Linked DNA regions of Homo sapiens: region 1 is linked to region 2. Evidence: fine-mapped expression QTL. A gene starts in region 2. The other region holds a variant in brackets. All regions are shown on one strand. Distances are between the middles of the regions.

Region 1 (2,906 bases), 90 kb after region 2:
GAATTACATTCTTTCCCCACGTGGAGATAGATTTGTGCTAATTCCACAACGTGGAACATCCTCCTTCGTTTGCTTAGACTTCCCTGGGAGCAGTAGCCCATGTACTGGTGGCCTAGCTCAACTGTGGCTTGGTTCTGGGCCTGTAAAGCCATCTTTCCCACCTACAGATGACATTCCCTATCTTCATCATGTGCTTTTAGTCAGGTTTCCTGCGGGCCAGATGCATCTGAGAGTGTGCCCTCATTAATATGGGACTCTGTGTATGTCCAGCACATGTGGGGTTTATTCACGTACCAGTGATTATTATTCAACATCGTTCCCTTTAGTGCAGCAAGCACTTTCTGAGTGCTTACCATGTGCCACTTTCTGTGAACCTCTGCAGTTCAACAGTGGAGTCAGAGGCAGTCCTTGTTCTCAAGTAGCTCATGATCTACTGTGGGAGACAGATGGCTAGATGATAGGGTGTAGTCATATCCCATTATTTCTGATACCCCAAATCTTGATCAGAAGCCTTGATCAGAAGCTAGGAAGGCTTCTGATCAAGATTTGTGGTGTCAAGAATAACAACGATTACAGCAATAGTAGTTGCTTATTGAGTGTGTCCTGTGTCCTAGGCACAGTTCTGAGTATTCGTCTCTTACCTCATTTAATGATGATACCTCTCCCATGTTGCAGATGAGGAGACTGAGGGCCAGAATGGTTCAGTAGTGTACCCAAGGCCACACAGCTGTTAAGTGGCATGAGAAAGAAAGAAACTTTCATTTTAAGCCTCTTAGATTTTTGTGGATTGTTTGTTACTGCAGCACGAACCAGCCCATCCTCACTGATAAGAGCCCCAGTGTGCGGAGTGGATTCCTGAGCCAGTTAAAAGGTTGCTACAGCAGTGGAGGCCTGGTTGGAGGGTGGTGATAAGCCTGGAAATAAAAGGACATATGTGAGAGACAGTAATTTGATAAAGAGTAATGAAAGAGGAAGCTTTCTTTCAGGTAGCTTATTCTGTTTCATTATTGTTGTTTTCCTTTTGGGAAAGAAGTTGAATTTTCATTGTTGGCTTATGTTTTCAAGGGTGACCTCAGTATTTTATTTTATTTTATTTTTTTGAGACGGAGTCTTGCTCTGTCGCCAGGTTGGAATGCAGTGGCGTGATTTCGGCTCACTGCAACCTCCACCTCCCAGGTTCAGGCGATTCCCCAGCCTCAGCCTCCCAAGTAGCTGGGACTTTAATGTTTTTATATTGGTGATTTTGAGCAGAGACTGTATTACCATCTAAAACACTACAAGCCTAGCATGTAAGCTCCATGTCTGTTTGCTCCTCATTCTCTCCAGGGCCCCTGGCACAGTTCCGGGCCCACAGTGAGTGC[T/C]CTGTAAACTTTTAGGGATGAACAAATGAATATTTTTAAATCTGTTCATTGTTTTCACAGTTAAACTTTTCTAAGCACTTATGTAATACTGTGTTTACTTAATTTTCATTTCTCACCAACCTTTATGGAAGACTAGGTGATAACTGGTTAAATTGTAATACAGTATCATAGGTATAATCTCGAAAAGGTAAAAATCAAATGTAACGAAGCATTATAATCCAGTGACTGGAACATTTTATGCAAGCCTTTGCTCTTTATTTATCTATTTTTTTATCATACACTTCTTCCCAGTTTTTGCTTAGTCCTTGTTAGCAGTTACATTAAAATCTGTTTTAAGTTCCACCTCAGGGAATATCAAAAGTTGGTTACTTTTCTAAATGGGCCTTTAATTAAAATTTTAAAAAATTAGACCATTGTGTTAGATTTTTTAAAATGTTGGCTAAAACAGAAAAGGTTGATTTCAGTGCAGTTGGGCTGAAACTATACTTAAATAGATTAAAGTATAATCTGGCTTTTAAAAAAAACACATCTGACTGGGATGAAGTAGTTGTGGTCTTAACTGAAGCAGGTGAATGGACCATATTCGCCTTTAAGAGCCTTCTGACTCCCAGGTTTTCTGATTTTTAAAAACTTCCTATTTAGTCATATGTTTTTACTTCACTTTATGGTTTAAGTGAGCCAACCAACAAAAGTTACTCATAAAAGATAGTATTTTACTTGTAACAATTGCAGAAAAAGTGAAAAGCTTGACATTACAGGTAGAAAGGAAGTCAGTCTCTGTCCCCTGTGCGTTTCCGAGACTGTGTTTCTATTTATTTGCCCTTTGTCTGTTTCCCCTGACCAGCGTGCGTTTCTTTCTGGAGGCGCAGGGACCTCGGCTTATTTTTCTCTGTCTTTGCATTGCTTGACAGAGGGCCTGACCCAGGGTAGGCACTCCCGCTTCATGACTACATCTCATTTTTTATTTATCTTTGTTATGATAGATAGCAGATAAAGCAGTTGATTTCAGTCAGAAGCAGACCACAGCAGCAGGATTCTTTCCACGGTGCATGTTCTGGCTGAGTGTTGGTGGGCTCCACCCTAGCCGAACCTGTGTCTGCACACCTGTTGTGTCTTCCTGGGAGGCTCCCAGGCATGCTCCTGTCTGGCCAGGGTGCTTCCTCCTCGCTCTCCAGCTGGCTGAAGGGAAGCTGGGCAAGAGTGTATGTGTTTAGGCCACAGGGAGAGCACAGACTCCCAGAGCATGAACCAAGGGGCTTCCAGGCCTCAGGGACTGCCTCCTGGTCCCCCAGAGGCCACCTCACTCTTACTCCTGTCTCCAGGCTGGTGACCTCACATGGCCCCAGCCATCTCTCCACATCCTCCCCTCCCTGCTGTGGAGCCCCCACTGACAGATGCCTTCCCCCTGTGTTTTGGCTCCAAATTCCAAGTGAGAGTAATTGCGTGGCTTCCCTTGGGTCTGTCTCCATCCCTGTTGTAGTCCCTCACAGCCCAGACTGTGGACTGCAGAGGCATCACCTAGGGGCTTGTCTGAGATGCAGAGTC
Region 2 (2,906 bases):
GGAGTGCAGTGGTGTGATCACAGCTCACTGCAGCCTCGACCTCCTGGGCTCAAGTAATCCTCCTGCCTTGGCCACCCAAAGTGCTGGGATTACAGGCATGAGCCACCATGCCCCACCAGGATTCACTTTTTCTGCATACTCTGGTGGTGTTTATTGTTATCTTTACATTTTATTTAGCAAAGAATGTTAAAAGCGCCATGTTATAAGCACACTCCTACCCTCCAAGCAGAATGTAAAGGGTATGTATTTATATATTTTAAGTGGTCCCACAGCAATTTGTACAGTTATAGCAGTTCACAACTATACTCAGTTATGTTTGCTTCTCTCCTTCTCAATAGTCTGTGAGGTTCCTTCAGGTTTGGAACTGTCTTTTATTAATCTTTACATCTCCAGCACCTAGCGCAGGGCTTAGCAACAATTTTTGTTGAAAGTATATACACTGTAATAAAGGGCAGTGGAAAGAAAATATGTGAGTTATCAACACCAGCTAGAGAAGCCTTGTCTGATTCCTGTGAAATATATTCATTTCCCTTAGGAAAAAAAACAATTCTAACCCTATTGCTGTGTAACTTAGCTTCTTGACTTCGAACGGTATTTTAAGGCTTTGAGGAGCTGGAGCAATGTATACTCACTAGAGGCAAAGTGCCTGGTAAGTGGTCTGGTATTGATCAGCAATGATCAGTAAGTACTGGGAAGTGCGTTTTCAGGGCCTGAGACTTGCAAGCTAGTGACAGACCGCTCCAGCTTCCAGTGGACCCGGGCGGGGGCACTGATCAACCCACTTGAGCAGTGGGATCAAGGTCTTCAGCCTTAGCAGTGGGAGCCTCTGCCCGGCCCCCTTCGTTCCCGAGACCCTCAGTCAGCGTCTCCTCCCAAGAGGGTCCCCTCCACCCAGAATGTCCTCCCCTGGGGGAGACCACTCTGTCTGCGGGCCCCCTCCCACAGGAGGGCCCCTCTTCCTCAAGGTGAACCTCTGTCCCCGATACCCGCTCCCAAGACCGAGACCTTGTTACGGCCCCACCCTCCACAGGCCCCTTACCCCCCGGATCCCCTCCCCTGGGGGAGACCCCTCTGTCCGCGGGCACCCTCCTATAGGACGCGCCCCTCTTTCTCAGGGTGAACCTCTGGTTCCCGATACCCGCTCCCAAGACCGAGACCCTGTTACGGCCACATCAACACAGGTCCCCCTCCCCCCGGCGTCCCCTCCCCTCGGAGGAGCCCCGTCTGCGACGCTTCCCAGTCAATCACCCCCAGCATCCCTCCCCGCTCTCACCCAGAACTTCCGCCGCGCCCCCTCCCCTCAGGCGGGACTTCCGCCGGCGCCCCCTCCCCCGCGGCGCCGTCTCCTCCTCCCGCCTGAGGCGAGTCTGGGCTCAGCCTAGAGCTCTCCGGCGGCGGCGCAGCTTCAGGGCAGCGCGGGCTGCAGCGGCGGCGGCGGTTAGGGCTGTGTAGGGCGAGGCCTCCCCCTTCCTCCTCGCCATCCTACTCCTCCCTCCTCGTCATCCTCCCCCTTCGTCCTCCTCGCCTTCCTCCTCCTCGTCAGGCTCGACCCAGCTGTGAGCGGCAAGATGGCGGCGCCCAGGCCGCCGCCTGCCAGGCTGTCGGGCGTCATGGTGCCGGCGCCCATCCAAGACCTGGAGGCCCTGCGCGCGCTCACGGCGCTCTTCAAAGAGCAGCGGAACCGGTAACGGGTCCGGCCGGGGGGCTGCCCCGGGCAGGGGAGGGCGGCCGGGACTCCCGCGGCGGCCCCGGCCTGGACCCAGGCGCCGCCCCCGCCTCGCTGGAGACGCGGAGGGCGAGGCCTGCGCGGGCTGCCTGAGCGCCACCCAGGCCTCCCGACTCCCAGGCACCGCCTCGTGCTCGTGGGTCCCCGCGGGGCCTGGGGCGGGCGCCCCGCTCCCCCACCGCAGCCAGTCCGGGTGCGAAGCCGCGATCCCGGGAGCCCTTGCCGCGGCGTGCCGGTGATGTTGACCCAACACACGGTTAGGCCTCCCCTGTCATGTGCGAGGGCTGCGCCAGGCCCTGGCTGCAAGACCCACGCGGCCCCCAGAGTCATAAAGCGTGTGTTTTAGCGGGAGAGACCCGTGTTACGGACGCGGGAATTGGGCAGTTGCGGGGATGGCAGTCTCTAGGCATGGAGTGGGACTGGCACTCCTTTCTCCTCGGCGTTAGAGCCCAGGCTGCACCATCTGCCCTGGGGGCAGCGCTCTGTGCAGTGTGGAAGAGCACGGGCCTGGAGAGACCAGTCCAGTCCTGATGCCACTGAGGGGCAAGATAGCCAGGCAAAAAGAGAAGGTGCCCAGGAGTCGACAGTTGTGGATTTGGTTCCTGGCCTTGCAAGCTGCGTGTTACTGTGCAGTTTCTCCAGGCCTTAGAATTCTTGTCTAAAAATGGGACTATAATACACAGCTTAGTTGCTGGATTGTACAGAGGAATAAATGAAATAAAGTACGTGAAAATATAAAATGTGCGAAGCCCTCAGTCAATGCTTGTTTGATCTTGTTCTGTCCTCTGGGCCTCAGTTTTCTTGTCTATTTAATGGGAGTAAAGTTGAACAGTACCTCCCTGGTGATAGTGTCATAAGGAGTAAATGAGATATAATGCATATTAAATCCTTAGGACATACCTGTACATAGCACTAAATGTAGCTGATATTATCACTTAACACATTGATTGGTAGTTACCCATGTATCAGCTATTGTGCTAGGTGATGGGGTAGGAAAATGGAAAGTCCTTGCTCTCTCCTGTACTAGTATGTACAAGATAACACAGCTGTGGGGGTATGTATGTACAAAGCAGAGGGAACATTGAAGAAAGAAATACTGAGACTTGGGTCAGCCTAGGTGATCACTAGAGGACTTCCTCTCTTTAAACTAGACACCTGGTCTGAGCACTTCCTTTACCTC

Alleles and levels. Positions count from the first base shown, and alleles are read on the strand shown. Sizes are in standard deviations (SD) of each study's normalised expression.
As copies of T replace C in region 1, the expression in esophagus mucosa of the gene that starts at base 1,339 in region 2 goes up (moderate effect, 0.41 SD a copy in GTEx).

Evidence for each region.
Region 1: its variant is fine-mapped to the expression of ATXN10 in esophagus mucosa (GTEx, PIP above 0.99). The same link has a PIP of 0.9 or more in fibroblasts.

The regions. Positions count from the first base shown.
Region 1 is chr22:45,760,040-45,762,945 of GRCh38, forward strand. All of the region lies in intron 9 of ATXN10 (ataxin 10), which reads left to right. MIR4762 (microRNA 4762) reads left to right here and starts at 485; the gene lies at 485-559. RefSeq lists an enhancer at 2,612-2,906 and a silencer at 2,770-2,906. The variant T/C (reference allele first, on the strand shown) is at 1,362.
Region 2 is chr22:45,670,496-45,673,401 of GRCh38, forward strand. It overlaps ATXN10 (ataxin 10), which reads left to right and starts at 1,339. Exons shown (of 12, transcript NM_013236.4): 1 at 1,339-1,684. The coding sequence starts at 1,569. RefSeq lists silencers at 1,012-1,201, 1,262-1,311, 1,642-1,971.